Homo sapiens: one gene and its partner. Changing the gene in region 1 together with any one later gene gives a genetic interaction. Each region holds a gene or a part of one and is shown on either strand. Other genes may lie near its edges. The genes, in order: CEBPB and NOLC1.

What was found.
Region 2: of CEBPB (region 1) and NOLC1, changing one enhances a phenotype caused by changing the other (phenotypic enhancement), as found in Homo sapiens cells (one study listed by BioGRID).

The regions. Positions count from the first base shown.
Region 1 is NC_000020.11:50,182,782-50,197,441, forward strand, and holds CEBPB (CCAAT/enhancer-binding protein beta), read left to right. Parts: upstream 1-8,048; 5' UTR 8,049-8,252; coding exon 8,253-9,290; 3' UTR 9,291-9,887; downstream 9,888-14,660. UniProt on the Homo sapiens protein: Important transcription factor regulating the expression of genes involved in immune and inflammatory responses. Also plays a significant role in adipogenesis, as well as in the gluconeogenic pathway, liver regeneration, and hematopoiesis.
Region 2 is NC_000010.11:102,155,362-102,169,707, forward strand, and holds the end of NOLC1 (nucleolar and coiled-body phosphoprotein 1), read left to right. Parts: intron 1-1,657; coding exon 1,658-1,713; intron 1,714-1,824; coding exon of another isoform or gene 1,825-1,827; coding exon 1,828-1,967; intron 1,968-2,069; coding exon 2,070-2,194; intron 2,195-2,687; coding exon 2,688-2,853; intron 2,854-3,831; coding exon 3,832-3,947; coding exon of another isoform or gene 3,948-3,977; intron 3,978-4,071; coding exon 4,072-4,207; intron 4,208-4,534; coding exon 4,535-4,663; intron 4,664-4,871; coding exon 4,872-4,982; intron 4,983-5,090; coding exon 5,091-5,732; intron 5,733-6,194; coding exon 6,195-6,301; intron 6,302-6,471; coding exon 6,472-6,564; intron 6,565-6,749; coding exon 6,750-6,908; 3' UTR 6,909-8,509; downstream 8,510-14,346. UniProt on the Homo sapiens protein: Nucleolar protein that acts as a regulator of RNA polymerase I by connecting RNA polymerase I with enzymes responsible for ribosomal processing and modification.

The DNA of each region.
Region 1 (14,660 bases):
CTGCACCCAGTAACTCGTCATTTAACATTAGGTATATCTCCAAATGCTATCCCTACCCCCTTCCCCCACCCCACAACAGGCCCCGGTGTGTGATGTTCCCCTTCCTGTGTCCATGTGTTCTCATTGTTCAATTTCCACCTATGAGTGAGAATATGCCGTGTTTGGTTTTTTTTGTCCTTGCGATAGTTTGCTGAGAATGATGGTTTCCAGCTTCATCCATGTCACTACAAAGGACATGAACTCTCATTTTTTATGGCTGCGACATTTCCCATTTTGATGGGCATGGCCAGATTAGAACTGGAGGTTACGCCACTTCGCACAAAGACTGAAGCTGTAAGAGTGCCTGTTTTTCCACACCATCAACACTGCGTGTCATTCACATTTTAAAAACGTTTTAGCTAATGGCAAAGGTTTTCAAGACAAACGTGACTTTACCAGGCCCCTGCCCTGCCTGTTGCCTCTCAAGTCACAATGCCAGTGGACATCTTTCTCTGTCCACAGGTGAAGATCCATCTTTTGTTTGTTTGTTAGAAATGAGAGGCCGGGCGTGGTGGCTCATGCCTGTAATCCCAGCACTTTGGGAGGCCGAGGCGGGTGGATCAGGAGGTCAGGAGATCGAGACCACGGTGAAACTCCGTCTCTACTAAAAATACAAAAAATTAGCTGGGCGCAGTGGCGGGCGCCTGTAGTCCCAGCTACTTGGGAGGCTGAGGCAGAATGGCGTGAACCAGGAAGGCGGAGCTTGCAGTGAGCCGAGATCGCGCCACTGCACTCCAGCCTGGGCGACAGAGCGAGACTCCGTCTCAAAAAAAAAAAAAAAAAAAAAAAAAAAAAGAGATCTTACTGTATTGCCCAGGCTGGTCTTGAACTCCTGGGCTCAAGGGATCCTCCTGCCTCGGCCTCCCAAAGTGCTGGGATTACAGGTGTGAACCACTGCGCCTGGCCCACGTTGGCCTTTTTTTTCAAATTGTAAAATACGCAGAACATAAAACTTACCATATTAACCATTTTAAGTGCACAGTTTGGTGCCATTAAGGACATTCACGCTGTTGGGTAATCGTCACCACCATCCATCTCCAGAACTCTTTCCATCTTCCCAAAGATGGAACTCTATATCCATTAAACAAGAACTTCCTCCTACCTCAGCTCCTGGCAACCACTGTTCTATTTTCTGTCTTTATGAATCTGACTACTCAAGGCACTTCATGTAAGTGGTATCATGCAGTATTTGTCCTTTTGTGACTGGCTTATTTCACTTAGCACAATATCCTTAAGGTTCATCCGTGTTGTAGCCTGTGTCAGAATCTCCTTACTTTTTAAGGCTAAATAACATTCTATTGTACAGACACATCACATTTTGTCCATTCGTCCATCGATGGACACGGGTGGCTTCCACCTCTTTTTTTTTTTTTTTTTTTTTTTTTAAGTCGGCGTCTTGCTCTGTCACCTAGGCTGGAGTGCAGTGGTGCGATCTCAGCTCACTGCAACCTCTACCTCCCAGGTTCAAGCGATTCTCCTGTCTCAGCCTCCCAAGTAGCAGGGATTACAGGCACCCGCCACCACACCCAGCTAATTGCTTCCACCTTTTGGCTATTGTGAAGAAGGCTGCTATGAACGTGAGTGTACAAATATCTCTTCAAGATCTTGCTTTCAATTCGTTTGGATACACACCCAGAAATAAAATTGCTGGGTCATTTGGTAATTCTATTTTTAATTTTTTGAGGAACAGCCATACCATTTCCCACAGTAGCTACACAAGCATTCCAGTTTCTACACATCCTTCCCAACGCAGCAGCCAGCCTAATGGGCGTAAGGTGGTATCTCATTGTGTTTTATTCCTTTTATTTTTAGTTGACACATAATTGTACATGTTCATGGGTTACAAAATGATATTTCAATACATGTATACAACGTGTAATAATCAAATCTGGGTAATTAGGATATCCATTACCTCAAGCGTTTATCATTTCTTTGTGTCGGGAACATTCAAAATCCTCTCTTCTCATTGCGTTTTGTTTGTTTTTTAGATGGAGTCTCACTCAGTTGCCCAGGCTGGGGTGCAGTGGCGTGATCTTGGCTTGCTGCAACCTCCACCTCCCAGGTTCAAGTGATTCTCCTGCCTCAGCCTCCCAAGTAGCTGGGACTATACGCACGTACCATCACGCCCAGCTAATTTTTGTATTTTTAGTAGAGACGGGGTTTCACCGTGTCGGCCAGGCTGGTCTCCAACTCTTGACCTCAGGTGATCCACCAAAGTGTTGCGCCTCATTGCAGTTTTGGTTTGTATTTCCTTAATGGTTAGTGATGTTGAGTATCTTATCATGTGATTATTAGCCATTCACAGTTTTCTCTGGAGAAATGTTTATTCAAGTCCTTTGCCCATTTTTAATTGAGTTGTTTTTATTGCTGTTGAGTTGTAACAGTTCTTTATGTATTCTGGATATGAACCCCTTATCAGATATATGATTTGCAAATATTTTCTCCCATTCCATGTTTCCATGTTCCATTTTTTTTTTTTTGGAGGCAGAGTCTTGCTTTGTCACCCAGGTTGGAGTGCAGAGGCACAATTTCGGCTCACTGCAACCTCCGCCTCCCGGGTTCAAGTGATTCTCATGTCTCAGCCTCCTGAATAGCTGGGATTACAGATGCACGCCACCATGCCTGGCCATTTTTTTTTTTTTAATTTTTAGTAGAGATGGGGTTTCACCATGTTGGCCAGGCTGGTCTCAGACTCCTGACCTCAAGTAATCCACCCACCTCGGCCTCCCAAAGTGCTAGGATTGCAGGCATGAGCCGCTGTGCCTGGCCAGCCCCCACTATTTCTATGACACAAATTCCTGCTACTCTCCGTCATCACCACAACTACGTGCTCCTACCTCAGGGCCTTTGCACTTGCTGTTCCCTTTGTGTGGTCCAAGGTCCCCCAGATACCTGCTTCACCACATTCAGGTTTTTGCTTAAATGTCACCTCAGTGAGGTCTTCCCTGACTACTCTAACATAAAGTTAAAATCAACTCCCCCAGCTTGGGCAATATAATGAGACCTGATCTCTACAAAACATTAAAAAATCAGCTGGGTGTGGTGGCATGCCCCTGTGGTCCCAGCTACTTGGGAGGTTGAGGTGGGAGGATCACCTGAGCCCAAGAAGCAGAGGCTGCAGTGAGCAGAGATCGTGCCACTGCACTCCAGCAGTGAGACCCTGTCTCAAAAAACAAACAAACAAAAAACCCCAGAAAACAAAAAATCAAATCTCCCAGAACTCCTGCTCTGCTCCCCTGCTGTATTTTCCTCCATAGTGCTGACCAGAATCTAATACAATCTATACTTTAATCATTGATCTTGTTTAGTGCTTGTCTTCCCCCAGGAGAATTTCAGCTCCACGAGAACAGGAATTGCTTGTCTTGTCCATGAATGTGTCTTTAGGGCCAGAATTACAGCATGTGCCAAGGAACATTCGATAAATGTGAAGGTTGAGCACTGTTTTCTGTTCGTTGGACACTCTGGTTCCTCTCGGCGGCCTGCTGATGCCCTGTGTGCATCTATCACATCCATGGCACCGGCCTTTCCTGATCCCAGAGCAAGGGCGCCCAGCGGATCTTCACGCATGTGAATGGCTCCTGCAGTCCCAGAACCTGCCACCTGGGGGCAGTATATACTCAGGCAAGTTTCACTACCGGTCCTGAGCACCTCCCGTCTCCAAAATCCTGGATCTCAGAACCTCGGAGCCTGGCAGCCCTTGGGGATCTATCTCTGCCAGCCCCACTTGGCAGATGGGGAAACTGAGGCCTCAGAGAGGAGGCATGATGGGGAAAATCTCAAACATTGGAATCAGGGAATCTGGCTTTTAAGTCTGGCTCTTGTACCCATTCACAAGGGTACAAGGGGGATTTGGAGGGGGAAGTAGGAAGTTCTAATCCTCTTCGGGCCTCAGTTTCCCCATCTGCCTGCTTTGTGGGGTGAAAGGGACATCTGATTAACTCTAATGTGTCGGGGAAGGCCAGCAGTGAGGGGTAACAGCAGGCCCAGAATCCCAGATAGAATATTATCACCTCATTTTATATACCAGGGACTGAGGCCCAGAGGGGACACCAGACACGGCCGGAGAGCCACAGCATGGAAGGCACAGGGCAGCATGAAAGGCCATCCCCCTGCCATCCCCCTGCCCCACGCCCACTAGAGACACCCCCCCATTCATGTTCTGATGGTTCACCTCTCCGCCATATTTTCCCACCTGCTGGCTGATTTCTAAGCCCTTTTGCAGAACACTCTCTGTCAAAGCAGCCACGTGGATCTCCCCTTGGCAAATCGCCTCAGTTTTCTCCTCTTGAAAATGGGATAGGGAAAAGCTGCAGAGATGGGGAGGAGGAATTGTGAAAAGCAGTTTGGGGGCAGAGGAGGACGTGTGTCCCAGGTAGGAAAGTGCCTGTTCCCTCCCCGCCCCCGCCTGGCTCCTGCCCACCACCATGTGGCCACGTGGGCCCAGCCCACAGCTTCAGGTTTTAAAAGAGGAGCTGGAAATTTGAATTTTGATGTGAAATCTCCTGATTTTTAAATGTTGGCAATAAATTCACTTAAACACACACACATCAAGCAAAACGCTATGGGGTCAAATTGAACACATCTGTGGTCTCGATTTGGCCACTGGCTGCCAGTTTGAGATCCTTTCCGGCTCTAGGTTCTGAGGGCAGGTGACTGGGAGAGGTGGCGCCAGGGGGATCCTGGTTTCCTGTGCCCACACAGCCACTCACGTACTCTGGGCCTCTGGGCCGTGGTGGTTCAAGCTCCCACCATCCCCACTTCTTGGGGAAAGGCTGAACAGTACTGGGGTGGGGGTGGGGGAGCAGCAGGCGGGGCCTGTTGAGCAAGAGCCTTGTAAAAACAAGGGCTTACGTCATCCTAGCTTGCAGCTTCCCTGCAGGACACCTGGGTCGGCACCGGGGTGGGACCTGCGCTGAGAAGGGATGGGTCATCCCCAGCAGGGGGTGGAGGGTGGGGAAGGGTGGCAAGCATGTTCCACCCCAGAGGCCAGAGGGCCTAGACCCCTGCTGGGGCTGAGTCTGGTCTTTGGGGGCTGGCCTGCAAGGTCCGAGTAACACCTTAACGCACTGTGTGACCCCAGGTCTACCCTTCTCTGTGCCTCAGTTCTTCTATCCAGAAGATGGGACTCACATTGCCAGGCCTGTTATGACAAACCCAAGAGGGAAAGTCAGACTGGAAAGATTTTATTCCTTCTCATCCTTTCATGTGACCTGGAGCAGACACACTTAGCTCTTCTGGGCCTCAGTTTCCTCATCTATAAAGTGGAGATAATGATAAGACTGTGGCCTGGCGCAGCGGCTCACACCTGTAATCTCAGCACTTTGGGAGGCTGAGGCAAGAGGGCCACTTGAGGCCAGGCGTTCGAGAAAAGCCTGAGCAACAGAGTGAGACATATCCATCTCTACAAAACATTGAAAAATATGAAAAAAGAAGAAGAAAAAAGACCTGCCTCCTACAAATTATCAGTAGGATTAAATGAGTTAATACATGCAAAGAGCTTGGAATGTGGTTCAGAGAAGGTGGAAGTTTGGCCTAAGAACACACAGCAAATCCTCCAATTAGCTTCAGTTCCCCCATATCTCCCTGCATCTCTTCAGAATCCAGAAAGGGAACGTGGGCGAGTGCTTTGGTTCAGAGAGGGGAGCCATTTTGCCTAAGGTCACACAGCCCAGCTAACGAGGAACCTCTCCTTCTTCTCAGCCTCCTCCATTTATTCACTCACCATTCATCGAGCACCTTCTATGTACCAGGCTCTGTTCTAGGCACCAGGGACACAGTAGTGAAGGCCGTGGGGACAGACAGCAAGACTGGCAGGCAAGATAATTCTGATTATAATGAGAATGGTGACGGAAATGAAGCAGGGGTGTGAGAGGAGTGACTGAGGGCCTAGACTTCCCATGGGAAGGTCAGGGAGGGTTTCCCGGAGGAGGCAGCTTTTGGGCTGAGACCTGAGGAGCTGCCTTGGGCAGAGGTGGGGTGACAGTGTTCTTGGTGCACAGGGAACAGCAAATGCATTCCTTCACTGGTAAATGTTGAGCGTGCTGTGCTCAGGAGTCCCTCGTGGGCCAGCCCTCCCCAAGTGGCAGCCTGCAGGGAGACTGAGGTAGACAGCTAGGATAATGGTGGCTGGCGATAGGGAAGGAAATTCACTAGCAGGTGGGACAGGGAGGGCCTCTCAGAAGCCGTGGCCTCTAGCTCAGCCCTGAGTGTCCCATTTTGCAGTGAGGAAGGGCTGGCCGGGTGGCCCTAGGGAAGCTGCCGCACCCCTCTGGGCCTTGATCCCTCCCCAACCCAGAGGCTGCTGGGAAGACCCAGAAAGCCAGCAGGCTGGGCCAGTGTTTTATCCCCTCCCTCCCTGCCTCCTACCCACCAAGGGTGCCCAGAGATGTCATTTCTCCAGCTCTTGGGGGCGGAGGTCACCCCAGCTCAGCAGATAACACCAAAGGTTGAGCAATGCCCGCCTGCCCGCTGGGGCCAGGGCTGGGGTCAGTGGGCTGGGGATCAGCCCCGGGCAGGCTGGGAGCTCCTGCCTAGGTGGCCTGGGCTAGGAGTGGCAGAGAGGTGGGCCCAGGGAGCTGCCCCAATGGCCTAGGAATGGGTCCGGGAGGGCAAAGGGCCCTCTAACCTGAGCCTACCCAGCAGAGGCGGGCAAGTGGTCAGAAGGCCTTGGGCCTGTGTTCAAGTCCAGGCGGGCCGTTGTCGCTTTCCCGTCTGTGAAATGGCAGCAGCAAAAGCATCTTCCTGGTGGGGTGAAAAAAGTTGAACCTCGGGGTGCAGGCCCACCGTAAGCACAGGGCAGGGACTTGGTAAAAACTTATCTTTCTCTTTCCTTCTCTTTCCTGCATACCACCCCCTCCCGTGAGGCCTCGCTTAAGTCCCTCCCTAGCAACTTCAGAAACAGAAGTTTTTGGCCTCTGGGACTGGCAATAGGTCTTAGGGCTCAGATGAGGGCATTTCATTTGGGATGAATGGGGGACATGCGGCCATGTGACCTTGGTATGCCACGCCATGCTCTCTCTGGGCCTCCACTGGCACAATCCGTGGGGGTCCCGTTCTCTCTGATGTGCAGCCCACAACGTAAGCCTTAGGTTTGGGAGTCTGGTGGGAACAATGCCACCACCACTGACAGTAGCGACACCCTTCATGGATTGCAGCTGGGAGAAGTGAAGTGACTCACCCAAGGTCACACAGTGTGGCAGGGCCGAGCACCCCCCGCCCCTGCCCCATCCCAGGGCCCAGGTCGGGTGGCGCAGCGCGGGGCAAGAGAAGACCCGGGCGTGTCCAAGCCTCGAGCAGGCGGCAGGTGTGGTGGGCGGGGCTAGGGGCGGGGCTCCGTGGACCAGGGTCCAGCCCCAAGCGGGGCGCGATCCTGCCCGGTCGCGCCGACCCCCGGGGTCCTCATATTGTCTGTGGCTTAAGAGGGGAGTCGTCACAGGCGTCAAGTCTTCTTTCTAAAGCCGGGGACCTGGGGAGGAGGTGGGAGTTTACGGGAGGAAGGGCCACGGAGATGGGTCGCTTCTCCTGGAGCTAGAGCTGCGGGCTGGGGTCTCCAGGGTTCGGCCCGGGGAGCCGACCCTGGTCGGCCGTCGGGGCTCTGCTCGGCCCTCCTGAAACCTCCGCCTCCTCCAGCAGGGGGCGGGCCGGGGCCGCGTCTCGGGGGGAAGGCGATCAGGTCGCCCCCTCCTCCGATTCCCCCGCCTTCCAGGACAGCCTCCAGCCCAGAGGGGCGGTCCGGGGGCGGGGTCGCACCGCCCCCTCTCGCTCCCAATCCCGGGGCGGCCGGGCGGGGGTGGGCAGGGGGCGTGAGGCCGCCCCTGCGTCCCGGGGGCCCCCCGAAAACGCGCTCCGGGTGCCCGGTCCCTCCGCTGCGCCCTGCCGCCGTCCTCCCGGGGGTCTCGGGCGGCCGCGGCCGTGTCCTTCGCGTCCCGGCGGCGCGGCGGGAGGGGCCGGCGTGACGCAGCGGTTGCTACGGGCCGCCCTTATAAATAACCGGGCTCAGGAGAAACTTTAGCGAGTCAGAGCCGCGCACGGGACTGGGAAGGGGACCCACCCGAGGGTCCAGCCACCAGCCCCCTCACTAATAGCGGCCACCCCGGCAGCGGCGGCAGCAGCAGCAGCGACGCAGCGGCGACAGCTCAGAGCAGGGAGGCCGCGCCACCTGCGGGCCGGCCGGAGCGGGCAGCCCCAGGCCCCCTCCCCGGGCACCCGCGTTCATGCAACGCCTGGTGGCCTGGGACCCAGCATGTCTCCCCCTGCCGCCGCCGCCGCCTGCCTTTAAATCCATGGAAGTGGCCAACTTCTACTACGAGGCGGACTGCTTGGCTGCTGCGTACGGCGGCAAGGCGGCCCCCGCGGCGCCCCCCGCGGCCAGACCCGGGCCGCGCCCCCCCGCCGGCGAGCTGGGCAGCATCGGCGACCACGAGCGCGCCATCGACTTCAGCCCGTACCTGGAGCCGCTGGGCGCGCCGCAGGCCCCGGCGCCCGCCACGGCCACGGACACCTTCGAGGCGGCTCCGCCCGCGCCCGCCCCCGCGCCCGCCTCCTCCGGGCAGCACCACGACTTCCTCTCCGACCTCTTCTCCGACGACTACGGGGGCAAGAACTGCAAGAAGCCGGCCGAGTACGGCTACGTGAGCCTGGGGCGCCTGGGGGCCGCCAAGGGCGCGCTGCACCCCGGCTGCTTCGCGCCCCTGCACCCACCGCCCCCGCCGCCGCCGCCGCCCGCCGAGCTCAAGGCGGAGCCGGGCTTCGAGCCCGCGGACTGCAAGCGGAAGGAGGAGGCCGGGGCGCCGGGCGGCGGCGCAGGCATGGCGGCGGGCTTCCCGTACGCGCTGCGCGCTTACCTCGGCTACCAGGCGGTGCCGAGCGGCAGCAGCGGGAGCCTCTCCACGTCCTCCTCGTCCAGCCCGCCCGGCACGCCGAGCCCCGCTGACGCCAAGGCGCCCCCGACCGCCTGCTACGCGGGGGCCGCGCCGGCGCCCTCGCAGGTCAAGAGCAAGGCCAAGAAGACCGTGGACAAGCACAGCGACGAGTACAAGATCCGGCGCGAGCGCAACAACATCGCCGTGCGCAAGAGCCGCGACAAGGCCAAGATGCGCAACCTGGAGACGCAGCACAAGGTCCTGGAGCTCACGGCCGAGAACGAGCGGCTGCAGAAGAAGGTGGAGCAGCTGTCGCGCGAGCTCAGCACCCTGCGGAACTTGTTCAAGCAGCTGCCCGAGCCCCTGCTCGCCTCCTCCGGCCACTGCTAGCGCGGCCCCCGCGCGCGTCCCCCTGCCGGCCGGGGCTGAGACTCCGGGGAGCGCCCGCGCCCGCGCCCTCGCCCCCGCCCCCGGCGGCGCCGGCAAAACTTTGGCACTGGGGCACTTGGCAGCGCGGGGAGCCCGTCGGTAATTTTAATATTTTATTATATATATATATCTATATTTTTGTCCAAACCAACCGCACATGCAGATGGGGCTCCCGCCCGTGGTGTTATTTAAAGAAGAAACGTCTATGTGTACAGATGAATGATAAACTCTCTGCTTCTCCCTCTGCCCCTCTCCAGGCGCCGGCGGGCGGGCCGGTTTCGAAGTTGATGCAATCGGTTTAAACATGGCTGAACGCGTGTGTACACGGGACTGACGCAACCCACGTGTAACTGTCAGCCGGGCCCTGAGTAATCGCTTAAAGATGTTCCTACGGGCTTGTTGCTGTTGATGTTTTGTTTTGTTTTGTTTTTTGGTCTTTTTTTGTATTATAAAAAATAATCTATTTCTATGAGAAAAGAGGCGTCTGTATATTTTGGGAATCTTTTCCGTTTCAAGCATTAAGAACACTTTTAATAAACTTTTTTTTGAGAATGGTTACAAAGCCTTTTGGGGGCAGTAATTGGCTTTTGTTTTTTATTTTTTTACTTTATTTTGGATTTGTAGGATTTTGTTTTTGCGTTTCTGGTGTGTAGGGGGTTGTGTGTGGGGGGCTGCTGTTATTTTTGGAGGTTTTGGTGGTTGGGTGGGGGTGTTGCAGCTGGTTTTTCTGCCTCCTCTGCTACTCCCCCTCCCACACACACAGGGTCTGCTTGAGATGGGGTTCCAGCCCCGGGGGAAAGGGGAGAAGAGTAATGGGTCAGGCATTCAGGCTGACTCAGAGCCCCTAGGCGCCGGGACGGGTGGCTGGGAACCCTGCTTGAGAAGAGATTCCGGAGCCTCTGGCTGGTCCCGAGTGTCAGGCTTGGGTTTGGAAGGGCTGGGAGGTCTGTGACCCCTGCCCTGTGTTTGGGGACTAGGTAGGCAGGCCTGTGACTGTAGGAGGAGGGGGTTCAGGTCTTGGTCCTGCTGAGCCCGAGTCAGGGCAGATGCTTTTGGTCAGTGTAGTGGGGTGGGTTGTTTAAAACACAGTTTGTGTATACATGTGTATTTTAAAGAGGGGAGCCTGGGTGTGTGGGCGAGTCTGTGTTTGTGTGTCCCTGGCCAGCAGGAGGGGAGAGGCCAGGCCAGGTGGAGAGAGGTGGGGGAGGGGTTCCCACACTTTGATTACCTTTCCTGAGGATGGGAGGCTCATCACTTGCTCTCTTTGCCCAGACTTGGACACTGAGCCCACCTCACCTGCCTGCTCAAGGTGGCTGAGCCCAGGCACAAACGTGGGGCTGCTAGCCCTGATTCCCTGGGACAGGCTCCTCTTCCCTGCCCACTGATCCCTTTGCCCCTTCCGGCTTCTCACCGCACCCCCTACTCCCATCCAGCCCTGGATGGCATTCCTGAGAGTTGAGGATGTAGATGGATGTGAGTGGATACATGTACAGCGTCCCACAGTGCCTGGCACGCAAGAAGTGTTATATAAGCGCTTGCTCTTGTTATTATTTTTTGCTGGGAAGCTGCTGGCATTTGGCACCCCAGTCTCCAGTGCAGCGCCAGTGTGGCCAGTACTTGCCAGGGGCCGGCATCTGGTAAACACTGGACCTGCCCCATCCCATTTAGACCTCACAATAACCTTTGGGAAGGTGGGGATTGTTATGACGCCTGTTTTTAGAGGTGGGGAGCAGCTTTGGGCTGTCCGATCCCTATGGGCAAGACACTGGTTGGGGGTTGCCCTGCCCTGAGGAATTCAGGGGCAGCAGGCATCGTAGCCTGGTTTGCCAAGGACCTGGGGCGGTCTGGGATCTCAGGAGCAGTTGCTGATACCGTGGTTCGCGAATGGGAAATGCTTTGCCCCTCCTTTTCCTTTTGGGGGCCTGGTTGTGCTTTCCCTGTGGGAGCCTGGGATGTGGGGAACAGACAGCGACACTCATCCCCCACCGCCACAAAGCGGAGGATTCCTATAAGCTCCACCTCCCTAATGCCAGTGTCTCCTGATGGTGGCTCGAGGGCTATGCAGATTGCTGGACACAGATAACCTCACTTCAACCTGGGACCTGCAGCGTGGCCCTGACCACGTCCCCTCCCAGCCCTGGGCAACTGGACAACTGGCCGGGCATGCCTTCAAAGCCTCGAAGTCAGTTCAGTCCCAAGCCCCACTGGTCTCGATGGTTTCTGTCAGTAGCAGCGACAGCAATGTGGGCTTGACCTCAAGGATTTACTTGCTGAAGGCAGAGGCTGAGGGGCTGGACCTAGGGAAGGAGGGAGGTGGAGAGGGTCGAAATTGAGGAACAAATCTCAAATCCCTGCTCCCTCCTTTGTCACCAAGAGTTGGCTGGTGGCCACTGCTCACCCAAATGAGGTGAGAGGGAAGCAGCCTGGCCAGACGGTGCCCCTCTTCCGCCCCCGTCTGCCCCACAGCTTCGCTTCTGTTTCCCCAGTGCTGTCCTGGAACCAGCGTTGAGTCAGTTCTTCACACACTCACATCTTGCTCTCATCCACAGTACCCCACAGAAGGTGCTAGACCCATTTCTAAAAGCACACATTGAGGTCCACAGAAGTGAGGTTTGTGCTCAAGGTGGGCTAGGTGGAGCAGGTTACAAAACCATCCGACTCCCAAGTCTATGGGGAAAGTTTGGGGCTGGGAGCCTGGTTTGTAATCCCAGTTCCTGTTTAAAATCCCAGGCTCTTCTTGGAGGGCTCCTTGCCTGACCTCAAGTTCAGGCACTCCAAGCCCCAGAACTGCAAACATCAGTTTCACAGTTTGGAAGCAACAGAAAGTGAATTTGAACCTGAACCCCTTGGGCTGCCTCTAAGGAGGGCTGGGAGAAGCAGTTCACAGGTTGAGGGCTTTGACGGTGGCTTGGTATGGGAGCACTGTGGACGGAGCTGTGCCCAAAGGACTTGGGGAGATGTCATAGTTAGGGCAACACCAACCCCACAGTTCACCAAGCTGCAAGGGTGAAGGGCTCGCAGGGAGGAACCAGTCCATTCCGACATCCAGAAACAGGAGGGGGTGGGATGGGGTGAGGCGAGCCCAGGAGGCCAGGGACGAGCCTTGAGGAATCATGATAATAGCAGGTGTGAGACAAGGGCTTAGATGTGCAAAGCACCACTCCAAGCCCTTGGCACAGAGGGAGGTGCTGGGTCCTTAGATATGTGGGAGAAAGCCGGTCATGTTAACCACAGACCCATTTAGTGTGTTTGACCACTGAGGCTAGCTGGGAGGTGGGAGCCTGGAACCCCAACTAATGTTTGCTCAGGACAAGAGAGTTCACAAAACAAGACACATTCACACCTCATAATCTTATGCAATTGTCCCACGGCCTGGTGATTTTAGCAAGGAGATAAGTGGATGTCAGAAATGAACGCTCGAGACACTGCTGGGTGCCGGTTCCACACTGACACTGTGCTCCTTGGTTTAATCAACTCATTAGCCTTTTGGAGGCTGCAGCTTTTGTTACTAGCATTTTGCTGCTGTGCAAACCAGCTTAGAGAGGTGAACTGACCTGTCTTAAGTTTGCACAGCTAAGAATGGCAGAAGCTGGAGTGGGAGTGAGAAGGGGAACTGCTCCTTCTGAACACCTGAAGAATATTTCCCTGCAGGCTGGGCGAGGTGGCTCACGCCTGTAATTCCAACATTTTGGGAGGCTGAGGACGGCAGATCATTTGAGGTCAGGAGTTTGAGACCAACCCCGGGCAAAATGGTCTCTACTAAAAAAATACAAAAATTAGCCTAGTGTGGCGGTGGGTGCCTGTAGTCCCAGCTACTCAGGAGGCTGAGACATGAGTATCACTTGAATCACAGAGGCGGAGGTTGCAGTGAGCCAAGGTCGCACCACTGCACTCCAACCTGGGCGACAGAGCGAGCGTGCCTCTGTCTCAAAAAAAAAAAAAAAGAATATTCCCCTGCCTTCCAAGTTTTGTCCAGACCTCTCTGAGACTGTTTTCTCCCAGTTTCTCAGTCGTTTTTTTGCCCAGTTATATTTTTCATTTATTTGACAAACATTTATTGAGCACCCGCTGTGTGCTAGGCCCCTTACTGGGTGTTGGGGACATGTGGTGGCCAAGATGGAGGTGATAATTTTCAGGGAGACACAGATGCTAAGTATCCAGTGACTGGAACAAGATAATGGCAGATGGAGTCAAGGGCTCTGCAGGAAGGAAAGTGGGGCAGAGGTGAGTGGGAGCGGTCCTGCGAGGCCCCTCCTAGGAAGTGGCATCTGAGCAGAGACCCCTGAGCCCAGGGAGTCAGGAGTATGGTGGGCTGCAGTTTACTGGATGCTCACTTTGCACCTGCTGGTGTCCTGCATGCCTTATTCTTAAAATCCCAATGATGTAGGTGCTTTTTTTTTTTTTTTTTTTTTTAAAGGAGTCTCACTCTGTCACCCAGGCTGTAGTGCAGTGGCATGATCCCGGCTCACTGCAAGATCCGCCTCCTGGATTCAAGCACTTCTCCTGCTTCAGCTTCCCAAGTAGCTGGCATTACAGGCTTGCTCCACCATGCCCGGCTAATTTTTGTGTTTTTCATAAAGATGGGGTTTCACCATGTTGGCCAGGCTGGTCTCGAACTCCTGACCTCAAGTAATCTGCCCATCTCAGTCTCCCAAAATGCTGGGATTACAGGCCTGAGCCACTGCACCCGGCCATGGGTGCTACTTATTACTCCCCCTCCCCAGATGGGGAAAATGAGGCACAGAAAGGTGAAGTCACCGGTCCAAGAGCTGGTGAGTGGCTGATGTGAGGTTTGAATTCTCACCTTGCATTTGAACCTGAGAGGCCTTCTCTGCCTGTTTTCCCCCATGGCCCTGAGCCTCTCCTTTGCTGTTTTCCTGTCCTGCCCTTCCACCCCCTCCTGAGTTCTTTCTCAGCTTGGCCAATCTCCTGCGTGGCCTGTGATGGCGTCCCAGCAGTCCCCGCTCCCTGTGGGATTTTTGATGGTGCATTGGCCGGGGCAGGGTAGTGAGGGAGGCCTGGGCTGGGCAGACCCAGGAGAGGCCAGAGTGGGCTGGGGAAGCCAGGGGCTTTCTGGGCTGGTGGTGTTAGCCCCTCCCAGGTGTCTTCCGAGACAGAAAGGAAAGAGTTCCATTTTACAGAGAGGAGACCCGAGGCTCTGAGAGGGGACAGTTCCTGTCCCAAGAGCAGCAAGGTTGGGATTTGAATCCAGGCCTGCCTGAGCCCCAAGCTCAGCCACTTTTCTGTCTGGTTGACTGCTCTGGGGAAGAGACACGGGAAGAACACAATTAGACACCTCTGAGGGGTAGGATGCTTGAGCAAAAGAGCTCT
Region 2 (14,346 bases), on another chromosome or scaffold:
AAGAGCGAAATTCCATTTCAAAAAAAAAAAAAGAGAGAGAGAGAGAGATGGAGGTCTCACTGTCTTGCCCAGGCTGGTCTTGAACTCCTGTCCTTAAGTGATCCTCCTGCCTTGGCCTGCCAAAGTGTTAGCGTACCTGCGCCCGGCCTGAATGCATTTTTTTTTTTTTTTGAGACTTACTCTGTCGCCCAGGCTGGAGTACAATGGTGTGATACTGGCTCACTGCAACCTCAGCCTCCTGGGTTAAAGCGATTCTCCTGCCTCAGCCTCCTGAGTAGCTGGGATTACAGGTGTGCACCACCATGCCCAGTTAATTTTTTGTGTTTCTGGTAGAAATGGGGTTTCACCATGTTGGCCAGGCTGGTCTCAAACTCCTGACATCATGATCTGCCTACCTCGACCTCCCATAGTGCTGGGATTACAGCAGACCTGAGCCACCGTGCCTGGCCCTTAAATGCAGTTCTTTACATTCAATACAGTACTTACTAGTCTTGTTTCTTTCTTTTTTTTTTTGAGACAGAGTCTTGGTCTGTCGCACAGGCTGGAGTGCAGTGGCGCGATCTCAGCTTACTGCACCCTCCGCCTCTGGGGTTCAAACGATTCTTCTGCCTCAGCCTCCCGAGTACCTGGGATTACAGGCGCCTGCCACCACACCCGGCTAAGAGACAGGGTTTCTCCATGTTGGCCAGGCTGGTCTTGAACTCCTGGCCTCAGGCGATCTGCCCGCCTTGGCCTCCCAGAGTGTTGGGATTATAGGCGTGAGCCACTGCATCCCGCCTGGAGGCTTATTTCTAATGATTTGGTATTATAATCCACATTGCAGGAAAAACCTTCTTGTATTAGTGTTTGTACCCTCAAGTAATGGATAAGATTACATTCTTAGATAGTACATTGCTAGAGTAAAGAGAGAGCCTTTTTTTTGGCAGAGGGGTAGAGATGGGGGTCTTGCTATGTTGCTTAGGCTGGTCTTGAACTCCTGGCATCCAGTGATCCTCCTGTCTCAGCTTCCCAAAGTGCTGAGATAACATGAGATAACAGGCATAAGCCACTGTGCCCAGTCAAAAGTGATTTTTTTTTTTTTTTGAAATGGAGTCTTGCTCTTGTTGCTCAGGCTGGAGTGCAGTGGCGCGATCTCCTAGGTTCAAGTGATTCTCCTGCTTCAGCCTTCTAGGTTCAAGCAATTCTCCTGCTTCAGCCTCCCAAGTAGCTGGGACTACAGACATCTGCCATCATGCTGGGCTAATTTTTGTTTTAGTAGAGATGGGGTTTCACCATGTTGGCCAGGCTGGTCTTGAACTCCTGACCTCTTGATCTGCCTGCCTCGGCCTCCCAAAGTGCTGGGATTACAAGCATGAGCCACCGTGACTGGCTGATTTTTTGTTTTGTTTTGTTTTAGGACTTTGATCAATATAGATTGGCAGGCAGGGGGTTAGATGGTTAGATGGTGCCGCAAACATAGGAGTAGCCCGTTTTTTACATCAGAAATTGGGAAATCCACAAATAGAATATTTTTCTCCTGATTTATGCACGTAGCAAAAGTTTTATGAAGATGTAACATTTATACCAAATTTAGTAATTATGTATGTAACAGGCCACATTTAATGAAAGCATAACCAGGATAAAATAATTTCCTTACCCAGCTCTTTTTCTTCTACAGACACAGCAGGATGCCAATGCCTCTTCCCTCTTAGACATCTATAGCTTCTGGCTCAAGTAAGCCTTTCCTGTTCCATTTTGGCTATTTTCTCCCCCAAGATAGGCTGGGCTGTGTTTCTTGGTTTGGGAAGATTCCAGTCCCCTAGAAATTGGTCCAATCTACCTCAGCAGGTCTGCCAAGGTCCCAGAGCGAAAGTTACAGGCAAATGGACCAGTGGCTAAGAAAGCTAAGAAGAAGGCCTCATCCAGTGACAGTGAGGACAGCAGCGAGGAGGAGGAGGAAGTTCAAGGGCCTCCAGCAAAGAAGGCTGGTAAGGCAGAGTAGCAGGTGGGCTTGGTGGTGCCAGGAAAAGAATTTACAGCCTGCTTGTTTCACATGGCTGATTCTTACTGGGACCTGTGTGTTTGTTCAGCTGTACCTGCCAAGCGAGTCGGTCTGCCTCCTGGGAAGGCTGCAGCCAAAGCATCAGAGAGTAGCAGCAGTGAAGAGTCCAGTGATGATGATGATGAGGAGGACCAAAAGAAACAGCCTGTCCAGGTTTGCAGCTTTGGGAAGAAAAAGGGGTTTAAGGATTAGAAAGGAAGAAACCTAAAATCTTGGCCTCTAGCTTGTAACCAAGGGGTGATGGCGGCAATACAATAGGTGATTATGAGGAAGAAAATCTGGGGATTTTCAGGGAGCTGATAAAAGTATGAGGTCTGGAAGGGATGTGTGAGGTTGAGGTCAGGCTCCGAATCTAGAGGAAATTAAACCCATTCTGCTTGAGGAGTTTGGGTTCTTCTGGGACACTATTCAGGGCTCCAAGAATAAGAGAGAGTGTTTTCCTGGGAGCTTTGGCAGGATAAGGCAGGAACAGGGCCAGTGTATCAAGTGGCTGAACTTTGTTGTTTTTTGCCCTTTCCGTATCCTGTCCTTAGCTTTCTTTTGCTCTTACTGCTCCATTAGGCCCCTAAAAATAAAAGGAACCTAGGATGCCCTTTGGGTACCCGGAAGCTTTTGCTGATTTCTCTCCTTGTGTCTTTTCTAACAGAAGGGAGTTAAGCCCCAAGCCAAGGCAGCCAAAGCTCCTCCTAAGAAGGCCAAGAGCTCTGATTCTGATTCTGACTCAAGCTCCGAGGATGAGCCACCAAAGAACCAGAAGCCAAAGATAACACCTGTGACAGTTAAAGCTCAGACTAAAGCCCCTCCCAAACCAGGTACTGTTTCTGTTCCCAAGAGGCTGGGCTGGGGACCAGATTGCTCTGGGGACTGGAGTTAAAATTGCCGATTTGGCACAGGGGTGAAATGGTACTGTTTGTTGAACTGGAGGTGTTGATTACTGGTCTTTTAATTTTAAAGGTTTTACTAATAAATAACAAGATTTCATAGGAGCTAGTAAATAGAGAAAGTTATTGCAGCAAGAAAAAATGTGTATTTTTTTTAATGGTATCCATTTGGTATTTTGTGACATTTCATAGACATTTTATGTTTTCACACATCCCATTCCACTGTAATCACTTAAATATCTATTTGTTGTGCTTTTCACTGCCATTTTTACTCTTGTATGTTCATTCTATGAGACAAATGAGAATTTTTCTTTTTTTCTGTAACTTGTGATGAGGGTTAGGTTATTTCTCTGAATGGAGGTTGAAGTGAAAGATTTTAGAGGGCGTATTGAGATTATTTATGTCATCTTTTCTAAGAAGACAGTTTTATTCCTGCCATGGGATAGGAAAGGTATCCTTTGATGTGGTAAACCATGGCTGGCATTCTCCTCGATGGCTGCTCTAAAGTTGAAAGAATTGGTGGACTCCTGGCCAGGCACAGTGGCTCACACCTATAATCCCAGCACTTTGGGAGGCTGAGGCGGGCGGATTGCTTGAGGTCAGGAGTTCAAGACCAGCCTGGCCAACATGGCGAAACCCTGTGTCTACTAAAAATATAAAAATTAGCTGGGCATGGTGGTGGGCACCTGTAATCCCAGCTACTCCAGAGGCTGAGGCGGGAGAGTTGCCTGAACCACTGCACACTAGCCTGTGCAACAGAGCCAGAGCCAGACTCCGTCTCCAAAAAAAAAAAAAAAAAAAAAAAAAAAAATGGTGGACTCCTAAGTTCTCTGCTCATAGGAAGGAGGTTTTTCATGGTCCTGACTTGCCCTAATACTCCTTACTCTTTCTTTTTCTTGGGTATTCCAGCTCGAGCAGCACCTAAAATAGCCAATGGTAAAGCAGCCAGTAGCAGCAGTAGCAGCAGCAGCAGCAGTAGCAGTGATGACTCAGAGGAGGAGAAGGCAGCAGCCACCCCCAAGAAGGTCTGGACCATAACTTCTGTCAGGGCAGAGGTGACCAGGGTGTGATGTGTGTGTGTCTTCCTTCCCTGGCAGGATTGGTTGGGTCAGCATTTTCCTGTGGTAATCAATTTTCTTTCTAATGCAGACTGTACCTAAAAAGCAAGTTGTGGCCAAGGCCCCAGTGAAAGCAGCTACCACCCCTACCCGGAAGAGTTCTAGCAGTGAGGATTCCTCCAGTGACGAGGAAGAGGAGCAAAAAAAACCCATGAAAAATAAACCAGGTGACTGGACATGGGGAGCGAAGCTGTGTGACTGTGGTCAGGGCCCAGCTGCAGTAACCACATGGACCTCTCCATAGAGGTGCATGAGCGTCCTCATGACATGACAGCTAGCTTCTCCGAGCACTAGTGATCCAGGAAAGCAAGGAGAAATCTCCAGTGCCTTGTGTAACCTAGACTCAGAGGTGACACCATGTTCTGTTAGAACTGAGTCATTGATTCTGGCCCATACTCAAGTGAAGGGGAATTAAGCTTCATTTCTACAAGAAAGTAGTATCAAAAAAAGTTGTAGACATATCCTAAAACCATCACACTATCCTTTTTAAACAGGTCCCTACAGTTCAGTCCCCCCGCCTTCTGCTCCCCCACCAAAGAAGTCTCTGGGAACCCAGCCTCCCAAGAAGGCTGTGGAGAAGCAGCAGCCTGTGGAAAGCAGTGAAGACAGCAGTGATGAGTCTGGTGAGTCAGAGGGATGCAGCCTCCCCTCAGCGTGGGTCTGGAGGAGGGGATGAGGAATAAGGGAGAGAGAAAGCCTTCCATCCTTCGGTTGCTTTTTGCTTAAAGCAAGACAGAGCTAAGGCTCTGTGCGTGTCTTTGCATTCTTTTTATTGCTGTCCTGGTTGGGTTGGGACTCTGGACCCAGCATAATGCTACAGGTTCTCCTCAGATTCAAGTTCTGAAGAAGAGAAGAAACCCCCAACTAAGGCAGTAGTCTCTAAAGCAACCACTAAACCACCTCCAGCAAAGAAAGCAGCAGAGAGCTCTTCAGACAGCTCAGGTAAGGCATATGGAGGCCCTCAGTTCAGTGAGATGCTCTCAGGCAGCTGCTAAGGGCTCCCCTGAATCCAATTTGGGGAGCTGTTGATTCCATCCCTTCTGTGTCTAGACTCTGACAGCTCTGAGGATGATGAAGCTCCTTCTAAGCCAGCTGGTACCACCAAGAATTCTTCAAATAAGCCAGCTGTCACCACCAAGTCACCTGCAGTGAAGCCAGCTGCAGCCCCCAAGCAACCTGTGGGCGGTGGCCAGAAGCTTCTGACGAGAAAGGCTGACAGCAGCTCCAGTGAGGAAGAGAGCAGCTCCAGTGAGGAGGAGAAGACAAAGAAGATGGTGGCCACCACTAAGCCCAAGGCGACTGCCAAAGCAGCTCTATCTCTGCCTGCCAAGCAGGCTCCTCAGGGTAGTAGGGACAGCAGCTCTGATTCAGACAGCTCCAGCAGTGAGGAGGAGGAAGAGAAGACATCTAAGTCTGCAGTTAAGAAGAAGCCACAGAAGGTAGCAGGAGGTGCAGCCCCTTCCAAGCCAGCCTCTGCAAAGAAAGGAAAGGCTGAGAGCAGCAACAGTTCTTCTTCTGATGACTCCAGTGAGGAAGAGGAAGAGAAGCTCAAGGGCAAGGGCTCTCCAAGACCACAAGCCCCCAAGGCCAATGGCACCTCTGCACTGACTGCCCAGAATGGAAAAGCAGCTAAGAACAGTGAGGAGGAGGAAGAAGAAAAGAAAAAGGCGGCAGTGGTAGTTTCCAAATCAGGTCTGTACCCAATGAACATGCCCTCTGGGTTTTGTCCCCCCAAATCAGGATGGGATATACTCTTTGAGAGTAGGGTAGTGAGAGGAGGCCCACCACTGGGCTTCCAGTTGTGGAAACTGGGAGGAAGAACAGGAAACTGGTTACCTTTTTTTTTTTTTATTAGAGTCTCACTGTGTCACCCAGACCAGGGTGCAATGGCATGATCACGGCTTGTGCAGCCTTAACCTCATGGACTCAGGTGATCTTTCCACCCCAGCCTCCTGAGTAGCCGGGACTACAAGCATGCACCACCATGTCTGGCTCATTTTTTTAACTTTTTATAGAGACAGAATCTCACTATATTGCCCAGGCTGATCTGAATTTCCTGGGCTCAAGCGATCCTCCTACCTTGGACTCCCAAAATGCTGGGGTTACAGTTGTGAGCCACTGTACTCGGCCTGAGTCTGGCTTTTTGTTTTGTAGGTTCATTAAAGAAGCGGAAGCAGAATGAGGCTGCCAAGGAGGCAGAGACTCCTCAGGCCAAGAAGATAAAGCTTCAGACCCCTAACACATTTCCAAAAAGGAAGAAAGTAAGTTGTCTCACTTTCTTCTCAGGAGCCAGCTCTTTAAAAGTAGAAAAATCTAGGATCATCTTGACAGCTCTGCCTGGCGTGACCTGGTACATGTGCCCATGTGTATCACTCAGGAGAACTGTTACATGACCACTCTGTCTTTAATTTCCTACTTCATTCTTCTGTAGGGAGAAAAAAGGGCATCATCCCCATTCCGAAGGGTCAGGGAGGAGGAAATTGAGGTGGATTCACGAGTTGCGGACAACTCCTTTGATGCCAAGGTGAGAGAGAGATCTGTGCCATTCTTGGGAGGGAGGATGGGTAGTGTCAGAGAGGACAATTCTTGGTTCAGGTTGGTGGGAATCTTCTCTGGGTTCAGGTTTCCTTGAGCAGGGAGTAGAAAGAATAAAGTGACAGGGCTCCAGCATGGTCCTCCTCTGTGTTAATCTCCCTCTCTACTTACCAGCGAGGTGCAGCCGGAGACTGGGGAGAGCGAGCCAATCAGGTTTTGAAGTTCACCAAAGGCAAGTCCTTTCGGCATGAGAAAACCAAGAAGAAGCGGGGCAGCTACCGGGGAGGCTCAATCTCTGTCCAGGTCAATTCTATTAAGTTTGACAGCGAGTGACCTGAGGCCATCTTCGGTGAAGCAAGGGTGATGATCGGAGACTACTTACTTTCTCCAGTGGACCTGGGAACCCTCAGGTCTCTAGGTGAGGGTCTTGATGAGGACAGAAGTTTAGAGTAGGTCCTAAGACTTTACAGTGTAACATCCTCTCTGGTCCTTTTCTGTGTTCCTAGTTTTGTACAGACTTGTTTTTGAGTGTTGAGTAGCAGGGACAAAATAAGGGAATGTTATTTTTTAAGAAAATTCATTTTCATTGTTGTCTCCTTCCTTTTCTGTGAAAGTCCTCATACTGAGAAATTTGTATATTTTATATTAAATCACTTACTATTGATTTTTGTTGTGATTTTCAAAGGTGGATTCCCACAGATAAAATCTTGGCTATTGCCCAAAACATAGTAAAGGGTCACGTGTGACTTTTTATAATAGGAAGAAAATTCTGCCTTTGTGAGTGCACATGTCCACATTTCATCCCTCCTTCCCTCAAAACCCTAGAGAGGGGCATTAAAGAATTGTTGATGTATATGCAATGTCTGTTAAGCATGCACTATGTATTTCATCCTCATTTATTGGGTCTGGGACTGAAGTTTTTAGCCAGCATGGACCTAACCTACTTTTTGGGATAAAATTCTCTGTTTTGTTACAGGCAAAATTCTGGTATGGCGTGAATGCCATGGGTCATTCTGAATATATTTTTTTCTGTAATTTTATCATTACACGATGTTTGCAATACGTGCTTTGTTTTTTAATTTGAAAGCAAACTTTTCTACTGTTGAAAGACATTTTTTGACAACTTGACCCTTCCTAGTATTGAGTTCTAAGTTGAGGACTGCATCTTCTCGTTTTTTACAGTATAGAGAACAAAATGACATGAGTTTGAAAAATACATATCACTTGGTATTGCTGTCTTGGTTGCAGTGGTGATACAGAATTGGTTTCATTAATTCCTACATGGTTGAGAATCACTGATCAAGAAAGTGGGGGGAAAAAAAACAAACGTTAAAACCTCAATCCTCAGTAGGAAGGTAGATTACATTAGGTGAAATTATAGGTAATCTATGTATGTGCTAATGGGGTTGGAAAGAACCTTACAGAGCATATTACCTGATAAACTGGAGTGGGTTTGGGAGAACAAACTAATAGGATTATTGTGTCTCCTAGTTGGTACCTGGGAGCAATTGACATGCCCCCTTCAGAACCTTAACTGTTAGTAGCAGTGGCTGTAACAACACAAACCAGTGACCAGAGATAACAGCTTTTAGGCCAAGCTGGCCTGACGGTATGGCTGCAGGAAGTGACTGAGCAGTAGCGGTACTCAGCCAGACCAAGACGGAGAGGGAAGAGTCCACAGCTTTCTGGAAGCTAAGGCATTCTGGTGGTAGAAAAGTGTGCCCCAAGCCTTCATGGACGAGTTATAGGTCTTAAGATTAGTCTCCTCTTGTTTGGATTCCATACTTGCTAAATAACCTGATAATAACCTGGTTTTCCATGTAACTGCCTCTAGGAAGAAAATGTACTGTTCATGCTGACACAGATATTTCAGTCTGCATGGTAAAAGTTCTAAATCTTACTACAAAATAATAAACTGGCTGGTTTATAATGTGTCTTGGGAGTTTTATTATTGTGAGTCTAAACCCCTCCCACCCCCTACTCAAACCAGAACAACTTTGGTGCCAGTTATAGGACTGGGGTCCAGACCTGTGATTTCACTGCAGAGGCTTTTTGGCAGCAGCTTGTCTCACGGTGCCTTTTCCAGGCTATATTCTAGCCTACGCATAGTCCAAATTGGGGGTTGGCAAAATGGCCTATGGGTCAAATCCAGCCCATGGTTTGTTTTTGTATTACCTAGGAGCTAAGAATGGTTTTTACATTTGTAAAGGTCTTTTAAAAAGAGAATGTGTGACAGAGATCTTATCAATGGCCCACAAAGCCTAAGATATTTAGGATGCGGCCCTTTACAGAAGAAGTTTGCCAATCCCTGGTCTAAATCAGCGATTCCTAAGACATCAGCTGAAAATTAGAATCATCTGAGGAACTTAGAAGCACGGATACTCGCAAATCAAAACCACAATGAGATACCATCTCACACCAGTTAGAATGGCGATCATTAAAAAGTCAGGAAAGAACAGGTGCTGGAGAGGATGTGGAGAAATAGGAACACTTTTATACTGTTGGTTGGACTGTAAACTAGTTCAACCATTGTGGTAGACAGTGTGGCGATTCCTCAGGGATCTAGAACTAGAAATACCATTTGACCCAGCAATCCCATTGCTGAGTATATACCCAAAGGATTATAAATCATGCTGCTATAAAGACACATGCACACGTATGTTTATTGTGGCACTATTCACAATAGCAAAGACTTGGAACCAACCCAAATGTCCATCAATGATAGACTGGATTAAGAAAATGTGGCACATACACCCCATGGAATACTACAGCCATAAAAAAGGATGAGTTCGTGTCCTTTGTAGGGACATGGATGAAGCTGGAAACCATCATTCTCAGCAAACTATCACAAAGACAGAAAACCAAACACCGCATGTTCTCACTCATAGGTGGGAATTGAACAATGAGAACACTTGCACACAGGGTGGGGAACATCACACACCAGGGCCTAATGTGGGGTGGGGGGAGGGAAGGGATAGCATTAGGAGATAGATATACCTAATGTAAATGACAGTTAATGGGTGCAGCAAACCAACATGGCACATGTATACATATGTAACAAACCTGCACATTGTGCACATGTACCCTAGAACTTACCCTAGTATAATATAAAAAATAAAAAGAAACACGGATACTCAGGGGCCCATCCTGAGATCTATTGAGTCAGACCCTGGTGCTGTCTGGTGAGGCCCGGGCACTAGGGTATTTTTAAAGCTCCCAGATGATTCTAATGAACAGGTAGAGTTGAAAACCGCTTATCTAAAGAGTATTTGAAAAGAAGTGAATTGGTATTTCCCACCTTCATGCTTCCATTTTCAAATATACTTGTTAAAAATAATAGTATAAAATGAAAATTTCAGGCCAGGTACAGTGGCTTACGCATGTAATACCAGCACTTTGGGAGGCCAAGGCAGACGGATCACCTGAGGTCAGTAGTTCGAGACCAGCCTGGTCAACATGGTGAAACCCCGTCTCTACTAAAAAATACAAAAATTAGCTGGGCGTGGTGGCACGTGCCTGTAATCCCAGCTACTCGGGAGGCTGAGGCAGGAGAATTGCTTGAACCCTGGAGGTGGAGGTTGCAGTGAGCTGAGATCGTGCCACTGCACTCCAGCCTGGCGACACAGTGAGACGCTGTCTCAAAAATTTAAAAAAAAAAAAAAAAAATTTCATCTCAGCCCTGTTTCCTGGAACCTGCTTCTGTGTCTCCTTCCAGACAGTTTCTAGGTATGTGCTACTATATGCATCCTCCCCTCCTTTTTTTCTTGGCACAAATGGGGCAGTTCGTCAAGTGCAATGTTTTGCAACTTTCAGAGCTCAATTCATAGCAGAACACAGCAGCTCATTTTTAATGGCTATATGGTACTCTGTTTTAAGTTATTTAAATTAGTACTTTAGGGGCAGAAGTTTAAGTATTTTGCTATTACAAATAGTGTTACACTGGGTAGTCTTATACATGAGACTGAGTATCTGTGTGTTTTTATGTAGGAAATATTCCTAAAAATGATGGCTGGTTCAAAGGATATTTGCATTTATTAATAACATTTTGATCATTATTGCCCTCCAAAATCGTTCTACTAATCGTATAGTTCCAGCAACATTTTATCAAAGTGCCTCTTTGCCCTCTTGCCAACACTATTTACCAAATTGATCTTTGCTACTTGGATAAATGAAAATGCTCTCTCATTTTTGTTTGTTTTTGTTTTATAGTGGTAAAACACGACATTAAATTTACCACTAACCATTTTTAATTGTATGGTTTAGTAGTGTTAAGTATATTCCACTGTGTAACAGATACCTAGGACGTTTTCATCTTGTAAAATTGAAACTATATTCATTAAACACTAATATCCCCTCCTCCCCAGCCCTTGGCAACCATCTTTCTACTTTGTTTTTATGATTTTGGCTACTTTAGATATAACCTCATGAGTGGAACAGTAATGATATTATCTTTTTGTAGCTGGCTTATTTTACTTAGCCAAGCCAATGTCCTCAAGGTTCATCCATGTTATAGCAGGTGACAGGATTCCCTTCCTTTTTAAGACTGCATGATATTCCATTGTACGTCTATACCACTTTCGCCCAGACTGGAGTGCAGTGGCGTGATCTCAGCTTACTGCAACATCCGCCTCCCAGGTTCAAGCAATTCTCTGCCTCAGCCTCCTGAGTAGCTGGGATTATAGGCACCTGCCACCATGCCTGGCTAATTTTTGTATTTTTAGTAGAGACGGGATTTCACCATCTTGGCCAGGCTGGTCTTGAACTCCTGACCTCGTGATCTGCCCACCTCGGCCTCCCAAAGTGCTGGGATTACAGGTGTGAGCTACCACGCCTGGCCTTGGCATTTTTATTTTATTTATTTTGAGACAGGGTCTTGCTCTGTCACCCAGGCTGGAGTACAGTGGTGCAAACTTGGCTCACTACAACCTCCACCTCCCAGGCTCAAGCAATCCTCTCATCTTAGCCTTCCGAATAGCTGGGACCACAGGTATGTGCCACCACACTTGGCTAATTTTTGTGTTTTTTGTAGACAGGGTTTTGTCATGTTGCCCAGGCTGGTCTCGAACTGAGCTCAAGCTATCTGCCTGCCTTGGCCTCCCACAAGTGTTGGGATTACAGACGGGAGCCACCGCGCCCAGCCCGTTTTCATTTTTAAGTTGAATATGACATACATCCATTAATTTATTCTCCTTAAAACATAAATAATTTGTGAGGTTGCTGTTTATTGTTTAAATCATGACTTTTCTTCTGTATTGTATAACCCTTCTCAGTCTTGTTTGCTTTTTTCCGACAGAACTCATTTCCTCTTAGGCCTTGCAAAGCTGAGTCTGCTACGTTTTGCAGCTAGTGTGTTACACAAATGAGGCGGTTTAGCAAATTGCCTAACAGTATTCATTAGGAAGGTTAACCTGAGTCTGCGTTTGTTTGTTTGTTTGTTTGTTTTTGAGACAGGGTCTTGCTCTGTTGCACAGGCTGGAGTGCAGTGGTGCGATTACGATCACCGCTCACTGCAGCCTCAGCCTCTGGGGCTCAAGCAGATACTCTGATCTCAGCCCCCTGAGTAGCTGAGATCCTCCCACCTCAGCCTCCTGAGTAGCTGGGACTACAGTAGTCACTAGGCTTGGCTAGTTGTTTTTTTGTTTGTTTTGTTTTTGTTTTTGTTTTTAATTTTGTTTTGTAGAGACAGGGTCTCCCTGTGTTGCCCAGGCTACTCTCAAACAATCCTCCCACCTCAGCCTCCCAAAGTGCTGGGATTACAGGCGTGAGCCACTGTGCCCAGCCCAGAGTGTACCTTCTGATGTAAAATGAGAATACTGGCTGGGCCTGTAATCCCAGCACTTTGGGAGTCCAAGGCGGGTGGATCACGAGGTCAGGAGATCGAGACTATCCTGGCTACTTGCAGTGAGCTGAGATCGCACCACTGCACTCCAGGCTGGGTGACAGAGCAAGGCTCTGTCTCAAAAAAAGAGAGAATACTATCTCAACTCATTTGTAGATTCTTGACTCTCTCAGAGGCTTGTTGTAAGGACTGAGAATTTAAAGCACTTAGTACAGTCCCTGGCATATTATAAGCACTCCATAACTGCCTCTTGCTCAACAAAAAAAGCTTTGGAAATGATGTTCTTTGGTTTCCTTGTGATGTGCAACATGCCATTTTGGCAAAGGCATCAAGCATATGTTAATGATTATTTCCCTGCAATGGTTTTTTGTTGTTTCACGTTTATCATCTTTATTCCTGATACAAAAATGGATATGTGGAATTGGTCCTATTAGAAACTTCTTAGTTTTGTGAAGAATCTGGAATTCCTACCCCTTGCTGATGGGCTCTGGCACTGAAATCCGCAAATTCAGTCAACCAGACACATGGCTCATGCCCCTCTGCATCATGCTTCATGGACACAGGCAGGAGACTTCCTAATGCCCTGTTGGGGGCTTGCCCTTCGCCCGGTGTAGCCTTACTGCAACCCTGTTAGGTGGGTATCGAGTAGATCATTCCATTTGGGGCCAGGTAAGTCTTTGCTTTTGAGGACTGTCCTGTGTGTTGTAGGATGTGTGGCAGCGTCCCTGGCCTCTAACACTGCATGCCAATAGTTTCCCCTAGTTGTGACAACCAAAAACGGCTCCAGGCATTGCCAAATATTTTCTGGGAAGGAAAATTGCCCCTAGTTGAAAACCACTACGGAAACAGCCCTGAGTATCAAATGATTTACTTAGGGTTGATGAAACTGCAACTTAGTGGCACATTGAGACAAGAACACAGGTCTCTGTATGTCCAAACATGGAGCTACCTGTATTCAATAGTCTTTGTGAACCTGCTATGTACTCGTCATAGAACTCCCAGAGAGCTCAGTGTCTAATGGGGAAAGTCAGGCATGGGAATGGTTTCTGTGCACTGAGCTGAGTTCTGTCCCAAACTGAAGGTCAGAGTAGCACCCCTAAGGGTACAAGCAAGAAAATACTTGGCTTGGCCCGGTGTGGTGGCTCACACCTGTAATCCCAGCACTTTGGGAGGCCGAGGCAGGCAGATCACGAGGTCAGGAGTTCGAGACCAGCCTGGTCAACATAGTGAAACCTCGTCTCTACTAAAAATACAAAAAATTAGCCAGGTGTGGTGGCAGGCGCCTGTAATCCCAGCTACTCAGGAAACTGAGACAGGAGAATCGCTTGAAACCGGAAGGCGGAGGTTGCAGTGAGCCAAGATCGTGCCACTGCACTCCAGCCTGGGCAACAAAGTGAAACTCTGTCTCAAAAAAAAAAAAAAAAAAAAAGAAGAAGAAGAAGAAGAAAAGACTTGGCTGATGGTGGCCTAGGATTCTGAAGACAGCTGCAGTTTGCCAGGAGCGAGAAAAGTGCATACCGTGTAAGGAAGAGTGCCTTTTCCAGTGGGAGAAGAGGGCTGTTAGAATGGGTCAAGCAGAGGTGTGCGGGAGGTGGGGGCAAGATACTGCGAAATTTCACTGAGAGTTCAATGTCAATGGCCTTTTGTACCTAAGTTAGGAATTAGTACTTTATTTTGTCCACCTGAGTATGTTAGGAGATTTGATAGTCTAATACAATACTCCTGGCACTAATCCGGTTGCGGTGAAAGCACTATTTCTGCCGGACCACGAAGTTCTCAAATCCCTCCTGCAGAGCCTGTCTGCAGTTACCGATGGGGCCAGTAGGTGGCGATGTTGCCCCCCTGTTTAGGGAGCTGGGCTGGACTTAAATAGAAGCTTAACTCCTTACTTACTCCAGTGCTATTCAACAAACTTGAAGAGCCGGGCGCAGT